Linked DNA regions of Homo sapiens: all the other regions are reported to be linked to region 1. Evidence: microRNA targets listed by miRTarBase, many of them from high-throughput screens and not tested one by one. Region 1 holds a microRNA gene; each other region holds the end of a gene's coding sequence.
Evidence for each region. Region 1 holds the annotated microRNA hsa-miR-6890-5p (CAUGGGGUAGGGCAGAGUAGG, at 3,224-3,244, shown strand). A microRNA usually pairs through its seed, bases 2 to 8, with sites in the 3' UTR of a target mRNA and lowers its output. Matches are read on the target gene's strand: a 7mer-m8 pairs with bases 2 to 8, a 7mer-A1 pairs with bases 2 to 7 and ends in A, and an 8mer does both.

Region 2: the mRNA of PTGR2 is a reported target of hsa-miR-6890-5p. Seed matches in the 3' UTR shown: 7mer-m8 at 1,529-1,535.
Region 3: miRTarBase lists ZNF696 as a target of hsa-miR-6890-5p. Seed matches in the 3' UTR shown: 7mer-m8 at 2,488-2,494.
Region 4: the mRNA of CPNE5 is a reported target of hsa-miR-6890-5p. Seed matches in the 3' UTR shown: 7mer-m8 at 4,469-4,475 and 7mer-m8 at 4,386-4,392.

The regions. Positions count from the first base shown.
Region 1 is chr3:49,098,133-49,103,132 of GRCh38, reverse strand. MIR6890 (microRNA 6890) reads left to right here and starts at 3,219; the gene lies at 3,219-3,279. It overlaps QARS1 (glutaminyl-tRNA synthetase 1), which reads left to right. Exons shown (of 24, transcript NM_005051.3): 6 at 661-714; 7 at 868-928; 8 at 1,234-1,305; 9 at 1,428-1,513; 10 at 1,692-1,778; 11 at 2,459-2,558; 12 at 2,675-2,753; 13 at 2,835-2,943; 14 at 3,042-3,172; 15 at 3,280-3,372; 16 at 3,486-3,623; 17 at 3,702-3,789; 18 at 3,880-4,023; 19 at 4,144-4,248; 3 more. RefSeq lists an enhancer at 2,279-2,779.
Region 2 is chr14:73,883,586-73,888,585 of GRCh38, forward strand. PTGR2 (prostaglandin reductase 2) reads left to right here. Exons shown (of 10, transcript NM_001146154.2): 10 at 516-2,141. The coding sequence ends at 592. ZNF410 (zinc finger protein 410) reads left to right here and starts at 3,274. Exons shown (of 12, transcript NM_021188.3): 1 at 3,274-3,330. RefSeq lists enhancers at 1,523-1,632, 3,264-3,333 and a silencer at 2,934-3,213.
Region 3 is chr8:143,296,497-143,302,166 of GRCh38, forward strand. It overlaps ZNF696 (zinc finger protein 696), which reads left to right. Exons shown (of 3, transcript NM_030895.3): 3 at 1-3,456. The coding sequence ends at 304. LOC124902037 (a long non-coding RNA gene) reads right to left here. Exons shown (of 3, transcript XR_007061139.1): 2 at 5,514-5,658; 3 at 4,889-5,337. Among named protein-coding and RNA genes, the nearest start is that of ZNF696, 7.9 kb to the left of the region's middle.
Region 4 is chr6:36,737,330-36,742,999 of GRCh38, forward strand. It overlaps CPNE5 (copine 5), which reads right to left. Exons shown (of 21, transcript NM_020939.2): 21 at 3,446-5,157. The coding sequence ends at 4,939. It also overlaps the pseudogene GPR166P. Among named protein-coding and RNA genes, the nearest start is that of RAB44, 42 kb to the left of the region's middle.

The DNA of each region.
Region 1 (5,000 bases):
TTTAAAAATTAGCCAGACATGGTGGTGTATACCTGTAGTCCCAGCAATTTGTGGGGCTGTGGTGGGAAGATTGCTTGAATCTAAGAGATCAAGGCTGCAGTAAGCTCTGATTGCACCACTGCACTCCATCCTGGAGTACAGAATGAGACCCTGTCTCAAAATCAACAACAATAAAAAAAGGTGGGAGGGGGCTGGGCATGGTGGCTCACACCTGTAATCCCAACACTATTGGGAGGCTGAGGTGGGCAGATCACCTGAGGTCAGGAGTTTGAGAACAGCCTGGCCAACATGGTGAAACCCCATCTCTACAAAAAGTACAAAAATTAGCTGGGTGTGGTGGCGGGCACATGCAGTCCCAGGTACTCAGAAGGGCTGAGGTAGGAAAATCGCTTGAATCCAGGAGGCGGAGGTTGCAGTGAGCGGAGACTGTGCCATTGCATTCCAGCCTGGGCAACATGAGCAAGACTCCAGTCTGGGCAACAAGAGCAAGAGCATTTTAAGCTAGCAGACCCACATGAGAAGAGATGGGATGGGCTAGGTAGGTTTTTTCAGTCAGTGCTGGTAGATAGGCCAGGAAGCCTTGGGTTGGTGGGTAGGATCAGTCAGGGGCTCCTTGAAAGAGGATACTCCTGCCTCTGCCTGATTCTGGTCTCTGCTCAGGTCCTCCACCTTCTGGGCCCCAAGTTGGAGGCTGATCTGGAGAAGAAGTTCAAGGTAGGGATGGGCATGGCCCTGAGTCCCTGAGGGTGAGGTGAGGTATGGTGAGACTTCAGGCTGGGGAAGGAAGTGTCTGACCACAGGGATCCCAAGACCCTATCCAAGAGAAAATTTGATGCCATTTTCTGAAGCACCTGGGGCTTCTTTCAGGTGGCAAAAGCTCGGCTAGAAGAAACAGACCGGAGGACGGCAAAGGATGTGGTGGAGAATGGTGAGAAGCTTGAGACTCCTGTCACAGCATTCAGCTCCCTGACTTCTGAACCTCCTCAGAAGAGTCCTTACAGGCTCCTCAGGCCCTTGGCTTACTCAGTACCCTGACTTCTGTCTCAAGACTGGGATTCCTGGTGTTTCTTTTGTTCCCTTTGCCCAGAGACTGGCATGAGAGGCCTCAGATGTCTGGCTCTAGATATCTTGTCTCTGGAATTGAGGGAATAGGGGTCTACTCAGTTCTGTTCTGGCTGTAGGATATGGTAAATGTATCTAGAGGACAAGTTTTCCTTGTTTTGTTCCCCACAGGCGAGACTGCTGACCAGACCCTGTCTCTGATGGAGCAGCTCCGGGGGGAGGCCCTTAAGTTCCACAAGCCTGGTTAGTGGGCATGTCAAAACCCTGGGGAGGGCTGGATCTTGGCAGCAGCTCCTATAGTCAGGCCCCTGGGGTCAGAGGCTTTGGCTGCAGCCTGGTCCTTAGGCTTATTCTGGTCCTGGCAGGTGAGAACTACAAGACCCCAGGCTATGTGGTCACTCCACACACCATGAATCTACTAAAGCAGCACCTGGAGATTACTGGTGGGCAGGTGTGTGGGGATGTGGCCATGTGAGCTTGTGCCATCAAACACCTGCCTGAGTGCCTGGGCTGCGTCCATACTGCCCCATCTCACCCATCACCATGGCCTTCCTGGGAGGGAACATCTGTTTCTTTAAGGTCATCTGAGCTCAGACTTTATTTCTCTTTTCCCATCCCCCTTATTTTAGGTACGTACCCGGTTCCCGCCAGAACCCAATGGAATCCTGCATATTGGACATGCCAAAGCCATCAATTTCAACTTTGGCTATGCCAAGGTAAGCATGTGTCTAGGGACCTGGCAAGCAAGATGACCACTTGCTGTTCCCATGAGTGGATACCATATCCCTGCCTTGCTGTCTGCTCCCAATAATGTACCCAGGTGGGCAGAGGCCATGGAAAGGAACCACATGTGTGACAGATACCTAGGAATCTATTGAGCTTATTGGAATAAATAGCTCCCTCCCTCTGAGGAGTCAGTGAGTTCAAATTTGGGGGAGTTGCCAGTGCAGTCCCTAGGCTTAGAAAGATGCTAGGTTAGATACAGGAAGGTGAGAGAAGCTCTTGAAGACATTTTTAATTCTGACATGAGTCCGGGTTGGGTGGCTCACGCCTGTAATCTCAACACTTCGGGAGGCTAAAGTGGGTGGATCACTTGAGGTCAGGAGTTCGAAACCAATCTGGCCAACATGGTGAAACCCCATCTCTACTAAAAATACAAAAGTTAGCTGGCCATGGTGGCACACGCTTGTAGTTTCAGCTACTGGGAAGCTGAGGCAGGAGAAACCCAGGAGGTGGAGGCTGCAGTGAGCCAAGATGGTGCAAGATAATCAAGACTCCATCTCAAAAAAAAAGAAAATTCTGACATGAGAGTGCTCTGTGAATATCCTAGTTTGATAAACAGGATTGTGGGGCTGATGGATGATGTGGGAGTTCACAGATGGTGCAACTTTCCTAGGCCAACAATGGCATCTGTTTTCTGCGTTTTGATGACACCAACCCTGAGAAGGAGGAAGCAAAGTTCTTCACGGCCATCTGTGACATGGTAGCCTGGCTAGGTATGGACTAGGCAAAGCCTAGAAGGGCTGGTGGTTAGTGGGCCTCTCCTTGGGCCATGGCCTGCCCACTGGGTGTTTGTGGCTGGCTGCTCATACTTTGTTTCATTTTGCCCCAGGCTACACACCTTACAAAGTCACATATGCGTCTGACTATTTTGACCAGCTATATGCGTGGGCTGTGGAGCTCATCCGCAGGTAAGGCCAGGGCCATGACGTAGAGCCAGGCAGACTGACTAGGTCACAGCCATGCTGGGCACTCACACCGCTTCCCCACAGGGGTCTGGCTTATGTGTGCCACCAGCGAGGAGAGGAGCTCAAAGGCCATAATACTCTGCCTTCACCCTGGAGAGACCGTCCCATGGAGGAGTCACTGCTGCTCTTTGAGGTGGGGTCCTAGAGGAGCATCTGGGTTTGGGTGGGCCAAGGTGCTGAGAATGAGATGCTCCTGTGCTTAGAGACAGCCTGAGTCCTTGTTCCCCTCAGGCAATGCGCAAGGGCAAGTTTTCAGAGGGCGAGGCCACACTACGGATGAAGCTGGTGATGGAGGATGGCAAGATGGACCCTGTAGCCTATCGAGTCAAGTATACACCACACCACCGCACAGGGGACAAATGGTGGGTGTAGAATGGGGTGGGGTGGTGGGGCTGCCGAGCAGGGCGATGGGCCATGGGGTAGGGCAGAGTAGGGCTGGATGGTAGGGCCCACTGCCTATGCCCCACAGGTGCATCTATCCCACCTACGACTACACACACTGCCTCTGTGACTCCATCGAGCACATCACTCACTCACTCTGCACCAAGGAATTCCAGGCCCGGTGAGGGAGCTGGGTCCATGGGGTGGTAGGGCCAGTGGAATTCCAGCAGCCCTTCCTGTGGTCTCTGCCTGGTTCCAGAGCTGGCCAGTGCTAACCCTACTCTCCCACCCCAGACGCTCTTCCTACTTCTGGCTTTGCAATGCACTGGACGTCTATTGCCCTGTGCAGTGGGAGTATGGCCGCCTCAACCTGCACTATGCTGTTGTCTCTAAGAGGAAGATCCTCCAGCTTGTAGCAACTGGTGCTGTGCGGTAGGTGCGGCTGTTTGGCTTATGAAAGGTTAATGGCATATGCTCCCAAAGGCCTTCTCACCACCTTCTTATCCACAGGGACTGGGATGACCCACGGCTCTTTACACTCACGGCCCTGCGACGGCGGGGCTTCCCACCTGAGGCCATCAACAACTTCTGTGCCCGGGTATAGCCCAGCAGGTTGGGTAGATACATTGGGGGTTGAGTGTGGCAGTTTGTGATTGTAGCTGTGACTGATGCTGAACTTTCCTGCCAGGTGGGAGTGACTGTGGCACAAACCACAATGGAGCCACATCTTCTAGAAGCCTGTGTGCGTGATGTGCTGAATGACACAGCCCCACGAGCCATGGCTGTGCTGGAGTCACTACGGGTCATCATCACCAACTTTCCTGCTGCCAAGGTGGGCCTGCCTCAACATGTGTGTCACATGTGTGTGTGTAGCTGGGGGTACACTTGGCTCTGGGCATGGGGGTCCTAATGCTGAGTATGACTCATACCTGTCTCCTGTCTCCTGCTATAGTCCTTGGACATCCAGGTGCCCAACTTCCCAGCTGATGAGACCAAAGGCTTCCATCAGGTTCCCTTTGCACCCATTGTCTTCATTGAGAGGACTGACTTCAAGGAGGTAAATTGTGGGGGTGGAGGGTCCCGTTTGCTGCTGAGTCTGGTACTGGGAACCTTTCATCTCCTCATCTCTGTCAGTCCATCTACTTCCTGCTTCAGATGAACCAATCTTTGCCAGACACGGGGGTAGGGAAGCTTCCCCACTTGTTTGACCCTTGCAGCCTCATGTGTCTACCCCACTTCCTATCTCTAGGAGCCAGAGCCAGGATTTAAGCGCCTGGCTTGGGGCCAGCCTGTGGGCCTGAGGCATACAGGCTACGTCATTGAGCTGCAGCATGTTGTCAAGGTGAGAGCCAGCTGCAGCCTTCCTACTGCAGTGCCTGCTGGGGCCAAGATGTGAGTATAGCCTGCAGTCCTGGTTGTGGTTCCCGGGTCTAATTGCTGCTCCCCTCCCCCCACTTCCAGGGCCCCAGTGGTTGTGTAGAGAGTCTGGAGGTGACCTGCAGACGGGCAGATGCTGGAGAGAAGCCAAAGGCCTTTATTCACTGGGTGTCACAGCCTTTGATGTGTGAGGTTCGCCTCTATGAGCGACTGTGAGTGAACAGAGCTGGGGTGGGGGCAGGTACAAGATGCACATTGCCTGCTATGGCTGCCCAGCTGGGGGTATGACCTTCACTTTGGCTGCAGATTCCAGCACAAGAACCCTGAAGATCCTACTGAGGTGCCTGGTGGATTTTTAAGTGACCTGAACCTGGTAGGTTCATGAGGTTTGGGGTGAGGGAGGTAGGCCTCCCTGGTTGGATGGTTGCCTGA
Region 2 (5,000 bases), not on the chromosome of region 1:
GGTGATGCTCCCACCTTAGCCCCCCGAGTAGCTGGGACTACAGGCACACACCACCACTCCCAGCTGATTTTTGTATTTTTAGTAGAGATGGGGTTTCACCATGTTGGTCAGGCTGGTCTTAAACTCCTGACTTCAAGTGATCCACCCACCTTGGCCTCCCAAAGTGCTGGGATTACAGTCGTGAGGCCCCATGCCCGGCCTTCACTCACATTTTATTCCCATTTTTTTTTGCCTCTAGTCTTCAGATACTGTAAACAATGAACATTGATGTGCATACCAGTTAGATACCAATTAAATCTTTCCAGTATGGGCAAAACATTTTTTTAAGATGTTAATTGGGTTAGTTTGTGTGTAACTTTTTACTTGAGATTTCTTTTCATGACCATTTTCTTCTATGCTTAATATTCAAAATCATTGAAAAAGTTATTTAACATAATTTTATATGTTGTACCTTTTGGAAACAAGTATGATAGTGACATTTATCTTTTCAGATAACCTACTTTCTCTTTTTCCAGCTGCATTCCAGTCCATGATGACAGGAGGTAACATTGGAAAGCAGATAGTTTGCATTTCAGAAGAAATCTCTTTGTAATTGCTGTAAATGTCATCAAGGCAATCATAGATTTCTTTTCCATTTTGCATATTTTCAAAGATATGTTAAAAAATCCTTAGACTATACATAGCTCTTGATTTAAATGTGATCATAGGTGTTATTTTTAGTTGCATAGGGTATTTGATACAATCATTAATGGATCATACACAATAGGTTTTTAAAAATTAATAACTTTTAGTAATTACTTTTATTAATTTAAAATAGAACGCTTGAGAGGCACTTTGTAAAGATTTGTTAAACTGGAAACGTTTTACATGATCTGATACAACCATTAATGAATCATACACAATAGGTTTTTTAAAATTAATATTAATAACTTTTATTAATTTAAAATAGAATGCTTAAAATAAAATAGAATGCTTGAGAGGCACTGAGTAAAGATTTGTTGAACTGGAAATGTTTTACATGATTCTTAAACTGAAACTTGGTGTAAAAATAGAATTGAGATGGCCTTTTTTTCACATTGTAGACTGAAAAGAGACTTAATGGTATGATGTGTACATAGGGACTGGGGGCAGGATTGGGGGTTTCGGAGCTTGTGTAACAGTTTTTGGGATAGGAGACCAGCGGTTTTGGGTTGGGATTAGTATGGGAAGATAAATAACTTAGGTTGGTTAAGTTGACAAGATTTACTCCAGAGGATCATCTCTTTGTATTTGCCAAATAATTTACTGTATAGCCTAAAAACTCCATATATATTGAGAAAAGCATATGTTTATTTTAGGTTAGCAGGCACATACTGTCAAGTTGTAAAGATTGAGAGGGCAAACAGATGTAAACATCACTTGTAGGTGATTAAAAAGATTGACAGCCGGGCCTGATGTCTCAAGCCTGTAATCCTAGCACTTTGGGAGGCAGAGGCGGGCAGATCACTTGAGGTCAGGAGTTCAAGACCAGCCTGGCCAACACGGTGAAACCCCATCTCTCTAAAAATACAAAAATTAGCTGGGCGTGGTGGCACACGCCTGTAATCCCAGCTACTCAGGAGGCTGAGGCTGGAGAATCATTTGAACCTGGGAGGGGGAGGTTGCCGTGAGCTGAGCTTGCACCATTGCACTCCAGCCTGGGCGACAAGAGTGAAATTCCATCTCAAAAAACAAAAACAGATTGACAACAAAGACAGTTTCAGAAAATGACAGGACTGGGCAAATTAACAAATGTTTGTAAACATGAATGTTCAGGAACTACTGATGTACCTCAAAAGTTTGTTTTATTAATTGTACTCAACCCTCGCAGAACAGTAAAACTGAAGATTATTGTTTCTGAATGTTTTGGCTTATGATTGTCTACACACTGCCAATATACTTTTGTATGCAACATTTGTAATAAGTAGATTCAAACTGTGTTGGTAATCAGCCTCCCCAGTTTTCGTGAGTGGCCCTTTTTTGTTACTTTTCCTGGACCATTTCATCGCCTGAGGGGGTTTCACTTTTCTCTGTATGTTGCTAACTCCCAAATCTCCATCTGTATTTCTGACCTCTTTCTTGAGCACTGGACCTTTACCTCCAAGTAAATATCCTCAACTCTGGATTGCATCTTATACTCTGCTTTTTTCTTTTCTTTTCTTTTTTGAGATGGAGTCTTGCTCAGTCGCCCGGCGTGCAGCGGCACGATCTCGGCTCACTGCAACCTCCGCCTCCCGGGTTCAAGCGATTCTCCTGCCTCAGCCTCCCGAGTAGCTAGGATTACAGGCGCGTGCCACCACGCCCGGCTAATTTTTGTGTTTTTAGTAGAGACGGGTTTTCACGGCGTTACCCAGGATGGTCTCGATCTCCTGACCTCGTGATCCGCCCACCTTAGCCTCCCAAAGTGCTGGGATTAAAGGCGTGAGCCACGGAGTCCGGCCTACTCTGCTTTTCTAAAGTGGAATTATCTTCCTCTGAAATGTTTCTCCTTTATTTTAAATCACCATTAGTAATTTGTGTACCCAAACCTGTCATCAAGGCTTATCTTTAACCTTGAAAATGCCTTTTTAAAGAGAACTCCTTTAATTCCCACGGTTGAGTCTCTCATTCTTCCGCACGCAAATATTTTAAAATAAGTAATTTCAAGAAGTCAGTCAAACTCACAAAGCTTTAACAAGGTGGCATCCAGCTTGGAAGTCAAGTGTTCAAGCCCGCAGTCGGGACATCCAAGAGCTCTTTACATCCTAATTACAACACGGAACCCAGACTCACTGCATACCCCGTCCCGTATATAATGCAAAACTTGATTCTGCAAGTTCCTTTCTCGGGCGGTGAAACTTCGAAGGTCCTCTCCATGGAGACCTTTGATAAATGTTTAAGCAGTGATCTTTTCTTTCGCGTTTGCCTCCATTGCAACGCCTCCGCTGATGGGAAAAACTACTCCCTCCGCTACTGCGGGGTGGCAGTGACGTCAACGAATTAGCTGACCTGTTTTTTCGGGCTTCGCGGACATAGGAGTCCCGAAGGCCGAGAGTGAGTGAGTGAGTGGGAGCGGGGCGGCTGCGGCTCCTCCTGTCCGGGGCGGAGCCCTGCGTCGCGGGCCTGGGGAGGCCCCGCCAGCACCCTTGACGTCTGGGTCCCGAGCAGTGCGGCAGCCACACGACACTGAGGCGAGCGAGTGGGTGTGTGCGTGGGGGGTCAGCCAAACTTCCTGTCCCGCGCTCGAGCTGCTTCCGGCGGGAGCCGGAAGACGCTGTGTGTGGACGGAATTCGGGACCGACTGACGGCCGGCCGGCTTCCCGGAACTGGAAGGTGAGCTCCGAGGTGGGCCTGGCCACCCCTCCTCGGTTAGGTAGTACCCGAGAGGGCGGGGGCCAGTACCGGCTACTTGGGGCCTGGGGCCGAGTTCGCCCCGAGAGAGGAAACCGCCCTCCTTGGGCATCCCTCCTGGATCTGGCGGGCCCGGGAGCGGCCAGTCTGAAGCCCTGCGGCTTTGGCCCTTCCCCTCGCGGGTTTTTAGGGGCGATGTTCTTGCTCCTTTGCTTGGTTTTGGGGGTAGGGATATAGGAACAGACTGTCCTGAGAAAGCCAGAGTCAGCGAGTCCCCGGGGCGGGGGCTCTTGGACTGCACCCGCAGCCGGGGCCTGCCTACGGACCTTGGGGCCTTATTTCTGAGGCCTTTGTGGTGTGGGGTAGAGGATGCCAGGAGGCCTTGCCCTGAATGTTTCAGTCCAGAGCTACCCTCTCCTTTCATACCACTTACTTTCTGGGTTTGGAAAAGGGACAGCTGCCTACTCGGCTGGGCTGGGTCGCCCGTTTCTCCTTTGCCTGTCAGTTCGGGGGGCAGGAGTGTGTGGATTGTTTACGGCCTTCATACATTTCGTGTCGAATTTATTTTCTGAAGTTTCTCAAGATAATCCAATTTATTAAAGTTTATCCCACTTGATCATGAGGCTCAGAAATGCATTTAGGCACCATTTGGAAGTTAAATATTATTAACTTGGGACTTAAGAATTAGTACTTAGGTTGGAACGAAGGTCAACGCAGCATATTTGCAATAAATAAAAAACATTTGGAAATAAAGTCGGGCATTTTGTTAGGGAGTGAGAAATTGCACTTGGTTTTTTCTTAGTGTGGTGCAGAGTAAAAGACAACTAAAGTAGCAGTCAGAAGTTTTAAGTTCTAGTTTTTTACGTTTTGCATCTAAGTAGATGTCTAATTTTTGGCAAGTTGCTGAATCTCTAGCTCTGGGGAGTTTTTCTGTAAACGAAGGGGTTTACCTTTAGGGCTATGACAATTTTTCCGAGGCACTGAACTTTGAGTAGAAGTGACATAAGCATTTCTTTGTTTTGGAAAGATAACTTGAATGGCTGCATAAAGGATGTATTGGAAAGAGGAATTTTAAACGCGGGGTGACCAGTTAGAGGCCTGTTTTAATAGTATAGTAGAAAGTTACTGAGAGACCTAAACAGGGCATTACAGTAGGGAACAGAGAACATTCTGGGAACAGAGAATCACGGGAATTATTTAAAAATGGAGAATGAGAGAGATTTAAAGACCTAGAATTTGCAGCTGAGTGGGAGGAAGATTGGGCGATCATTGAAATAGGTAATACAAGAAGAACAGGTTTGGTAAGGAAGATAATAATCTGGATTTTGGACATTGTTAGGTTTGAGATGCTGTTGGATATACATGTGGAGATACCTAGCAAGCAGTTAGAAATGAAGGTTTGGAGTTCAGAAGAGATGACTAGAGAAAAATGTAGGTATCATTTGTAGTGTCATTCATTCATTATACAAATATTTAGTACCTACCAGTTGCTTACTGGGAAGCTTGTATGGAAGCCCTTTAAGCTCATAGTAAACACATTAGAAGTGGGAAGTGACCGTTAATGGGCACAGGGTTTCCTTGTGAGGTGATGAAATATTGTAAAATTGATCGTGGTTCTGCTTGTACAACTCTGAATGAACTAAAGATATTTT
Region 3 (5,670 bases), not on the chromosome of region 1:
CAGCCAGAGCTCCAACCTCCTCCAGCACCAGCGCGTGCACACGGGGGAGCGGCCCTTCGCCTGCCAGGACTGCGGCCGCGCCTTCAGCCGCAGCTCCTTCCTCCGCGAGCACCGCCGCATCCACACCGGGGAGAAGCCCCACCAGTGCGGCCACTGCGGGCGCGCGTTCCGGGCGCTGTCGGGCTTCTTCCGGCACCAGCGACTCCACACGGGCGAGAAGCCGTTCCGCTGCACCGAGTGCGGCCGCGCCTTCCGCCTGAGCTTCCACCTCATCCAGCACCGGCGGGTGCATGGCGCCGAGTGAGCCGGGGCTGCGGCGGAAGAGATGCCGGCGGCCTGGTGGGCGCGAGGCCGAGGCCGGGGGAGGCTCCTGTCCGCCCCGTGCGCGGTGAGGAAGTAACAGCCGGCTGCGCGCCTGGTTCTCGGGTTGCGAAAGCCTCGCCAGGCCTGCATCCGCCTTGGCTTGGGAGCAATCAGGAGAGACAGGGCTCGGGGAAGGCGAGCGCTGCCCGCGGGAGGCGATTCCCAGAGGCGGGGAGGTCTCAGGGGTCTGTCCCGGGCCGGCCGCCCGCCTCTGAGACTCCCCGCCTCCCACGGTCAGCTGCTGCGGGGCAGTGGCCGGTGATTGAATCGGTCATTCCTCCGCAACCAGGCCTCCATCAAAACCCTGCATGAGATGAGGGCCTCGGGCTTCGGGTTGGTGAAGGCGGGGTGGGGGGGCAGTTAGGAAGGGGGCGCCCAGACAGGGCATGGAAGCCTCGCGTCCTCCCCCGTACCTTGCGGGTCGGTGGTTCATCCATGTATTTCAACGCCTTTTCACAGCCGGTTCATATGGTCCCGACTTCTGTGTGCTTAGAAAATTATGGAACTTGGCCGGGTGCGGTGGCTCCCGCCTGTAATCCTAGCACTTTGGGAGGCCGAGGCGGGCGGATCACACGGTCAAGAGATCAAGACCATCCTGGCCAACATGGCAAAACCCCCATCTCGACTAAAAATACAAAAAATTAATTGGGCGTGGTGGCGTGCGCCTGTAATCTCAGCTACTTGGGAGCCTGGGGCAGGAGAATCACTTGAACCTGGGAGGCGGAGGTTGCAGTGAGCGGAGATCTGGGCACTGTACTTTAGCCTGGGCGACAGAGAGACCCATCTCAAAAAAAAAATTGGAACCTGAGAAGGGGGTCGTGGGGTCCCCGGGGCCCACCGTCTGCACTTGGCATCTGAAGTCGGGGTGGTCTTGTGGGACTGACCCCTTACCCTGTGGGTTCTGCACTAGCTCCGGGCAATTGGTGACAGAATCGAGTTAAATTGTAGGACATCGCGTTGGTGTCTGAGAGGGAGTTGGAGAGCTGGTTGGTGTGGAGGGAAAGGCTTACACACATGTGATTTCAGAAGCGTTCTGTGGGTAGAGGAATCGTTTTCTCTTTGAGACTGTTATGAGTATGTACAAATGTTATTTCCTGTAAAATATTTTCATTTTTTAAAATGTTATTTTCTAGATAGAAAAGTAGAAGTGTCTCTTTGGGGAGCGTTTTTGGGGGCGTATAGTAAAGCTCTGTCATCATGAATTAAGCGAGGTGGGCTTTGAGTTTCTTGGGATGACAGGGAAATGTGAGCCGCCTACTGGCCGTGAGCCCCTGGGGTGCGGTTGCAGGATTCGCCCATCCTGGTCTGGGTGTGGCTTGTGACCACCTCCTGCAGTTCTCTGCCCAGGTAAGGACTAATTGGGAAGAATTCTGGGTCCTGAGCTGGCTGCCGCTTCCAAGACAGTCGCTTTGAGGGCTCTTGGCACCGATTTTGTTAAAATGCATGAGCTTAGGGTTGTGCAGCCTGTAGGGGCAGGGGTGGTCTCAGAATGGATTTGGTGGCCCCACCGTTAATTAAGCTCCTGACCCCTGGGCCGGTGGTGAGGTGGGAAGATGAGCCTGTGTCTCCCATGCTGAGCCAAGATCCTCAGGTACCAGTAGCGGTCAAAGCACCTGCTCCCTGAAGGAAGCTTACCTGGCTTAGCCTCATTCCTGCTCGTAAGTCAGGCATTCAGCTTGCAAAGATCCCCAAGCACACAAGGAGAGTCAGCTGACTGAGGGCCAACAGAAACAGCAGGCAGCCGCTGTCAGCCACAAAGAAACGCAGATCCTGAAACTGTCATCATACAGGTGAGAGGATAGTTATGTGTGAGGTGTTCAAAGAAGTCGCGCAGTCAGTGATGAGAAAGCTGTAGGGTACATACTGTCACGCATGAATAGGCAGGACTCCTTAAAGAACTTTTGGAAATGAAAAACAGGCCAGGTGCAGTGGTTCATGCCTATAATCCCAACACTTTGGGAGGCCTAAGGGGGAGGATCACTTGAGCCTAGGAGTTCAAGACCAGCCTAGGCAACATAGGGCTGGGCACGGTGGCTCACGCCTGTAATTCCAGCACTTTGGGAGGCTGAGGCAGTGGATCACCTGAGGTCAGGAGTTTGAGACCACCCTGGCCAACATGGCAAAACCCCATTTCTACTAAAAATACAAAATTAGCTGGGCATGGTGGCCCACACCTGTAATCCCAGCTACTCGGGCAGCTGAGGCAGGAGAATCCCTTGAACCTGGGAGGCAGAAGATGCAGTGAGCCGAGATCACGCCATTGCACTCCAGCCTGGGCAAAAAGAGCAAAACTCCATCTTAAAAAAATAAATAAATAAAGGAAAATGAGCCGAGTGATGGTCTTAGATATAAGATGGAATGGCAAGCAAATAAAATTATAAATATGAATACATATGTATATATAAAAGAATAGTGTCAACTAAAATACTAGACAACAATAGCATGTAAATTAGAAGGGACAGAAATGTTCTAAGACCCTCCGGTTGTTGGGAAGAGGGTGTAAGATAGTGTTTAATTTGACTTTGATAAGTTAAATGTGCATAGTGTAATTTAATGTTAATTACTAAAAGAGTGTAACCAGTCTATACATCTCTAATCCAATAAAAAGAATAAAACACTGTGATTTAAAATGTAGTCCCAGCTGCTTGGGAGACTGAGGCAGGAGGATCTCGGCTTGGATCCTCAGACCAGGAGTTTGAGGCAGCAGTGAGCTACGATTGTGCCGCTGCACTCCAGACTGGACAACACAGTGAGAGCCCATAAAATAAATAAATGAACTGAACACAAACTTCTGTCAATTAAAAAATAAGAACGAAATCAGGCTGGGCCTGAGCGCTGTGGCTCACACCTGTAATCCCAGCACTTTGGAGGCCAAGGTGGGTGGATCGCTTAAGCCCAGGAGTTCGAAACCAGCCTGGGCAACATAGGGAGAACCTGTCTCTACAAAAAATACAGTAAGTAAGCCTATAGTTCCAGCCACCCAGGAGGCTGAGGTGGGAGGATCACCTGAGCCTGGGAGCTCGAGACTGCAGTGAGCTGTAGTCATACCACTACACTCCAGCCTGGGCAAAAGAGTGAGACCCTCTCTCAAAAAAGAAAAAAAAATCAGAAACAAACTGGGCAAATTAAGATGGTGGAAACAAAACTAAATATGTCCCTAACGACAGTAAGCTGTATAGAATTGCCGGTTGACAGGTAAAGGTTAGGACTGGGTGCAGTGGCTCATGCCTGTAATCCCAGCACTTTGGGAGGCCGTGGTGGGTGGATCACCTGAGGTCAGGGGTTTGAGACCAGCCTGGCCAACATGGTGAAACCCCGTCTCTACTAAAAATACAAAAATCAGCCAGTTGTGGTGGTGCATGCCTGTAATCTCAGCTACTCGGGAGGCTGAGACAGGAGAATGGTTTGAACCTGGGAGGCGGAGGTTGCAGTGAGCCAAGATTGCGCCACTGCTCTCCAGCCTGTGTGACAGAGTGAGACTGTCATACACACAAACACACATAAAGATTAGGAGGAAAATCTGTGACCCAGAGTCACACACATGAAGACAGACAGGAGGGAGGCGTGAGTCAACCAGGGGAAGAAAGGCAAGCTCAGGTGCCATATGAAGTCCAGAACATTGTTTTAAAAAGGAAACTCAAAAATAATGATGGGCCAGGCATGGTCGCTCACCCCTGTAATCCCAACACTTCGGGAGGCAGAGACGGGCGGATCACTTGAAGTCAGGAGTTCGAGACCAGCCTGGCCAACATGACAAAACTCCATCTCTATTAATAATACAAAAATTAGCCAAGTGTGGTGGTCTGCGCCTGTAATCCCAGCTACTTGGGAGGTTGAGGCACGAGAATCGCTTGAACCTGGCAGGCAGATGCTGCAGTGAGCCGAGATTGCGCCACCGTACTCCAGCCTGGACTTCACTCAACCTGGGAGGCAGAGGTTGCAGTGAGCCAAGATCGCACCGCCAACTCCAGCCTGGGCGTTACTCAACCTGAGAGGCGGAGGCTGCACTGAGCCAAGATCACACCGCTGACTCCCAGCCTGGGTGTCACTCAGGCTCAGTGAGACTCCACCTCGAAAAAAATAAAAAAATAATAAAAATGTCTTAGAGATGGAAATGTAATGGGCAAAATTAAATTAGCAAGAAGGTGGAAAGTGGAGAAAATCTGTTTGAAAGAATGAAAAGACAAGAAGGTGGGTGACAGGATAGAAAGATTAAGACTAACAGGAATTCCAAGGAGGGGAAAACAAAAACAGAAAATGGTGGGAATGAAGTTATTAGAGAAATAATTTTCCCCCAGAACCGAGAAACATGAATCTCCAGAGTAAAAGCACCTACCGATATCTCGCACAAAGATGGAAGGAACGACCTACATCCAGGCATGACGTGAAACATCAGACAGTCCAGGACATAGAGACGATCTGAAAGCGCAGATCACACACACAGGCTGAGGAATAAATCCCTTCCCAAGGGCAGACTGGAAGTTAGAAAATGACAGAACAATGCTTCGAAAATTACAAGTGAAAATAATTTCCAACCTAGAACTTTATACCTACCCAAGTGGTCAGTCAAGTGTGACAGTATGACAACATTTTCAGATATGCAAACTCTTACTTTTAAAAATTCATTTTCAAAATACATGTTTTCAGGAGCCTACTAAAGGAGGAGCTCCAAATCAAGGGAGCAAACCAAGAAAGAGGAAGAAGGGGCTGGCCACTGTGCTGTAATCCCAGCACTTTGGGAGGCTGAGGCAGGTGGATCATGAGGTCAGGAGTTCGAGACCAGCCTGTCCAATATGGTGAAACCCCGCCTCTACTAAAAAATACAAAAATTAGCTGGGTGTGATGGCGCGTGTCTGTAGTCCCCACTACTCAGGAGGCTGAGGCAGGAGAATCGCTGGAACCCGGGAGGCGGAGGTTGCGGTGAGCCAAGATCACACCACTGCACTCCAGCCTGGTGACAAAGCAAGACTCCGTCTTAAAAAAAAAAAAAAAAGGAAGAAGTGGAATCTTGTAAATGGGGTTTCATAGAAAAAAAGTGGTGAGGGGCATCCCCACGTGACAACGGAGCCCCAGGGCTGGGCAGAGAGAGCCGCGTGTCCTGGGACCGTCCGATATTTCCCACAGTCCACTCTGGAGCCACAGTGACTTACTTTCCTTCCACAAGTGAAATATGCTCGCCACCCCCCACTCAAGCCACCCAGAGGTCTCTTCCTGCTGCTGTCTCAGCTCAGAGGCCGTCAGCTCATGATTCTCCTCTGGTCCGGATGTGTGTGAGATGCCTCTTGAGGCTATAAACTAAAGAAAAAA
Region 4 (5,670 bases), not on the chromosome of region 1:
TCTGCATCTTCTATAGCATGGTGGCCACAGCTCTCCTGCGCCATGTGGCTGTGGCCCGGCCTGACCTGGCCTTCCCAGCCGGCTGGGGCACCCTCTTGCTGCTCTGTGGGGCCATGTGGGCCCTGGGCCTTACAGAATCCCTGCCCAACTGGCTGTTCCAGAGGGTGGCAGTGGAGGAGGAGACAGCGGGGGCTCCCAAGACCCAGGCCTGCCTCTTGCTCCTGAGCCCTGCTGGGACCTCCTGCTACATCAGCCTGCTGGGAGCCCTGGCCTTCCTGCCATGCACGCTGGGGCTGGGCTGCTCTTTCAGCCACGTGGGCTGGCTCCTGTGGACCCAGCCCCAAGGTCCCATGGGAGAGAGCATCCAGGAGCATTAAGAGAACATAGGGCTCAGCCTTGTGGTGCTGGTGGTTTTTGTGCTGATGTGGGGGCCCTGCTCCATGCTGGGTTATGTGGCAGCCATGGGCTACCTGCCTGCCACACCGGCTGCTTTTGTGGCCTCCAGCCTCTGCACCATCCTGGCCTACTCCAATTGCGCTGTCAGCCCTATCCTCTGCTTCTACCTCTCCCGCCCCTTCCAGGCAGGACTCAGGGACCTCTTCTGCAGGCCGATGATGGCCAGGCATCCCAGAGGTGTGGGAGTGGCAGCCTCAGTGGTGGCGACTGTCCAGCCTGGCCGTGACAGGGCCTCAGGAGGCCTGTGGGGCCTGGCGGGGGTCTAAGAGTATAGGCTGATGGATGCGCTGAGATTCAAGGGAGATGGGAAGACCCTTAGGGACCTGACAGCCCATCCCCTCTATTTTACCAGTGGAGAGACTGAGACCCAGAGGGCAGATGGCCCAAACAAGGTCACAAAGCAACTAAATGGCTCAGCTAGAGCTCACATCTCTAGGTAACCAGATGGATCCTCCCACTCCACTTTCAGGCTCAGATCTCTGTAGGCTCCACTGCTCTCTAATTGTGTGATCTTGAGCCTCTGTGTCTCAGTGTTCTCATCTGGAAAATGGGATGATGACAGTACATACCTTCTTCACAGGGTTGTTATGAAGATGAATTTGCTAAACACATGTAAAGTGCTTAGAAGGATGCTTAGTAAGTGCATATGCGTGCTGGTCATTGCTACTATTATTATTTTATTTGTATTAATTCAGGGGTATTTGAGGTGAGTGGACAAGAGGAGGACAGAGGGGCTTCCAAAGGCAGAGAAGTGGGTGGAGAATGATCTGGGGGGTAACAGCCTAGGGTCCTTAATCCTGAAGGCCAGGAGATTGAGTAGGGGGAGCAGAGGGCCAGCCACAGCCTGGGGGGTGAGCTCAGAGGCAGGACAGCCTTTCCCCTCTCTGCCCACCCCTCCAGCTCTGTTCCACACACCCCTCAGTCCAATAGGGGGACAAAAATCCAGTCAACCATGCAGCCATGACTCCGGGACTGTGAATGTCTGAAGCCCTCCTTTCTTCCCTGTGGCTTCTCTTCCTGAAGCACCTGGGGCAGGGATCCCTTTCAGAGCCCTTTTCTTCTCTCCAGAGCCCAATTTGAGGTTTCCATTTTTCCCACCCTCAGTGCCCTCCCTCTGGCCTGCTCAGGGCAGGCTTCAGGCTTCCATGTTGGCCTGGAAACCCGGGAGATTGTCTCTACTGAAATTCCCAAGACAGCACGTTCTGCTTGGTGACGGTGTTACCAGCAAAACACACATACACACACTGACTCTGTGATACAAAGCTTGAGAAACGTTGGGTTGAACCAAATCATACTGGTCCCTTTGCTGTAGGACTTACCAGAGCCTTGAATACCCAAAAGGCCACTGAGACTCTCGAGAGGGACGCACAGCAGGCAGGTTCCCAAACTCCATGCCAGAGAGCCAGTATTCTGTGGAACACACCTTGGGAAAGAATCCACAAGATGCTACGGTGTTGGGCACAGCAAAGATGCTCTTGGTGTCCCGTCCCGCCCCCGGCAGTGGCTCTGTGCCTCAGTCCCCCTGCCAGGCAAGCACCCTCTCCTGACACTTTCCCACGGCCCCTGTGGTGAGGTGACATGAGCTGCTGGTTATGGGAACTTCCCTCCTTCCAAGCTGTGACCCCACCCTGTTCCCACTCAAAGCATATCAGAATGTAAGTCACAGGGGCATGTAATTATAGGGACAGCCGTGAATCAGCACCCATTTACTATAAAATCATAAGAAGTAAACAAGTCCCAAACTTTGGTATAATTAGTTCCAAATTTCTTGTGATGTTCAGGGTGGGAATGGCTGCCTGGAGGGCTAATCTGGGAACAAACTTGCCCAGAGAAGGGAGAAATCCCCTTTTGCTATGATCCTGGTCCCTGATGGCCACAGGGATTTATATGTGAAGAGGAACAAGAGGAAAACAGTGTTTCTTGGGCACCTAAAATGCCATGGGTCCTGGGCGCATGTCACATATGTCACATGCAACCTTATGTACTCGTCACTCTGGCCACACGATGACCCTGCAAGGATGGGGGTGGTGGTGACGACCCCATTGCACAGGGGATGCCAGACTCCTCCTCATGGCACAGTGACTCTGGTGCCCACAGATTACCCAGCCCCTCCTGATGGCTTGGCATCAGTACCCCATGGTTGTAGTATTTCCTCGCTCACTGCCCCAGAGCAGGGGCACCCCTGAGGGTGCAATTCTGTGTGTGCATCTCCAGCATGGTCTCCAATACGTGAGTGGGGCCTGGCACTCATGTTTGGTAAATACTTGTTGAGAGATGAGTGAATGAGTGATCAAATGCAATAAAGCAATCCGTTTATTTTAGAGGAAATTCTGATGATGTTACTCACTTCTCTCACCTCCTCAATGGCTTCCCGTTTCACTCAGTAAATGCCAAAGGCCTCATCATGGCCTATGCGGCCTGTGCATTCTGGCCTCTTCACCTCTCCGACCCCATCTCTAGCACTTTCCCTTCCTGCACTCAGCTCCAGCCACACTGGCCTCGCTCTCCTGCAAATGCACCAAGGAAGCTCCTACCACAGGGCCTTTGCGCCTGCTGGTCCCTCTACTTAGAGCTCCCTTCCCCAGATATCAGCGTGGCTCCCTGTCTTACTTCCTGGGGGCTCACCTCAACCATGACCTCCTCTGAGAGGCCCTCTCTGACCACCTCATCGAAAACATCACCCTCCTTCTCCCTCATGTGTCTTTAGAACTCTTGCTACCACCTGAAATGATGTTACTAGCCTATTTGTTGATGTGTTTGCTGGGTCTCTCCCATATTATCTGTGTGTGTGTTGTAAGCCCTGTGCAGGGACAGGGTCTGTGCTTTGTTCATGGCTGCATCCTCAATGCCTAGCACAGAGCGTGGCACGTGGCCTTTGATTGTAAATCTCACTGAAGCAAACAATTGAAGGAAGCCACAGAGGAGAACTGGACCCTGTCAAGCAGCAACGTCAGTGCTATTTTTCAGAGAAGAAAGAAAAACTTCGTGCTTTACTAAAAGAACCAAATTTACTTCAGTTTAAGGCAAATTCCACACAGAGACTGTCTCAGAGACGGGCACAGAACCAGACACCGTAGAAACACCACCACCATGCATGACGGGGAAGCAGAGGCAGGCGGAAGACGGGGGCCTGGCCTGCACCAGGCACGGAGAGGTCAGTGGGCTGAGGAGCTCCATGCGGCAACAGGGATTGGCATGCATGATCTGCTCCCCGAGTGGGCAAAGGCTGGGCAGCTGGGTGGGCCCGGGAGGGAGATCCCCTTCTTCCCCACCTTTCCCACAGCAGGGGCAGGAGCTCGGGCTCAGATGCCAGAGCCCCAGGCTGAAGGACTAGGGTATGTTTGGGGTGATGGGATGAGACAGGGTGACCCAAAAGCCAAGGCGGCCTCAAGTAGGGTCACATCTGTTAGGAGTAGGATGGGGGGAACTGGGCATGGGATGAATGACCCTCAGGATGTCAGACCTAAAGGAAAACCTGGGGCCATCTGGTCAACCCTCTTGTGGTACAGACATGGAAACTGAGGCCCAAAAGGTAGAAGGGCCTTGCTTGGGTTCCCACATTAGGCAGTGGGGGGAGGCAGGGCTCAAACCCAGGACTCCTGTCTCCTAGCCTCATGGGATACAGGGCAAAGAGCAGGAGCAGTGTGGGAACGTGGGGCTGAGCCACTCCTTACTCAGGCCTCCAGATGGGCAGAGGCGTGGGCACCGAGGGCCCTGGGAAGCCTCTGGAGGGAGGAAGGGATTCCTGAAGCCAGGAGTCAACCATGGAAGTACCTGTGGGCCCACACCAGGGAGAGGCCTCCACAGGCCATCTGTGTGTCTAGAACTTGCATCGTACTGAGTTCGAGAGGCACCAGAAAGGGCTCTGTGCTGAGCAGCCTCCACTTCAGGCCCATCACATGGCCTACGGTCCATGATTACAGCACCCCATGGGGTCCCCGGGGCTCCCAGCGCATCCAGTGTCCCTGGGAGGGTGCACATGTTCAGGCCTTCCTGCAAACCCATCAGCTTCATGGGGTTCACTGGAAATCGGGCACAGGATAGACCACAGGGCGGGGCTCAGGGACAGGAGTAGACACCATGGGAGGATGGGACGGAGATGGGGGGCTGGAGGAGGCCAAGCCCAGGCTTCAGGGTGACAGGTAAGCAAATAGGATTGCCGGGGGTGGGCGACAGGGACCCCAATCACCCTTATTGTTTACACCTTCCTGGCTGGGTTAGAGCCAGGTATTGGGGAAGAAGAGAAGGGCTGGGTCCCTGTGTACCCCTCTTTCACCCGTACCCCCCTAACTCCCTGGGTTTGGGCAATAAGTGAGGCCAAGAAATTGAGGAGGGGTCTTCAGAAGCCCCACCCCCTGGCAGCCTCCCAGGCACACAGATGTCCCAAAGGCCGGGCAGGCCAACTTCGGGGAGTCTGGGGCCCTGGCCTCCCATTCACCTGGCCTCTCCCAGGCCCCAGCCACCTGCCTGCTGAGACCAGGTTCAGATGTGCGTGTGCAGGGGGGACGCAGGGGGCGTGCGGGCTGGGGACTGCGAGGGCGAGTGGGTTGGTGCTGCGGGTGGGGGACGCGGGCGAATGCCCTGTGCCTTCATGTAGGACACCAGTTGGTCAGGGATCTCTGCCAGCACGTCTCGGGCCAGGCGGGCCATGCTCAGCACGTGGTTGCCTGTGCGGTCCACGTAGTCCCGGAAGGGTACAAACTGGCAAGTGGGAGGGCAGGGTCAGGCAGTGCCTCCTGTGGGACCCTGGCCCCCAAAATCTCCAGGCCTGGGGTTGCATCCCCACCCCCCTCCCAGCCTCTGCTCACTTGACTCAATCCCCCCACCTTTCTGAATTACCTGAGGGACTGTATCCCTCAACTCCCTGGGTTTGGGCAGTCAGTAACTATAGTCATAGTCACTATTCTTTCATTCACTCGACAAAAACTGAGCCCTATTCCACACCAGGACACACCACTGAACACGATTTCTCCACCTCGGCACTAAGCACAGGCTCTGAGTAGGTGCTTCCGAAATGCCAACTGAATCCCTGACTTCTGGGGCACGTGCCCTCCTGGGTTTCCCCCGACCTGTCCAGCAGAGCCCTCTCTCTCTGGCCTCTCTTCGTTCCTTTTCTCTCTGGGGCTAATCTGGCCAATGCCTAATGCCAGGCCCATCTGGCTTCTTCCCGGGGGTGCCCTCCATCCTGAGCGCCTCTTCTGGCTCACTCCTGCC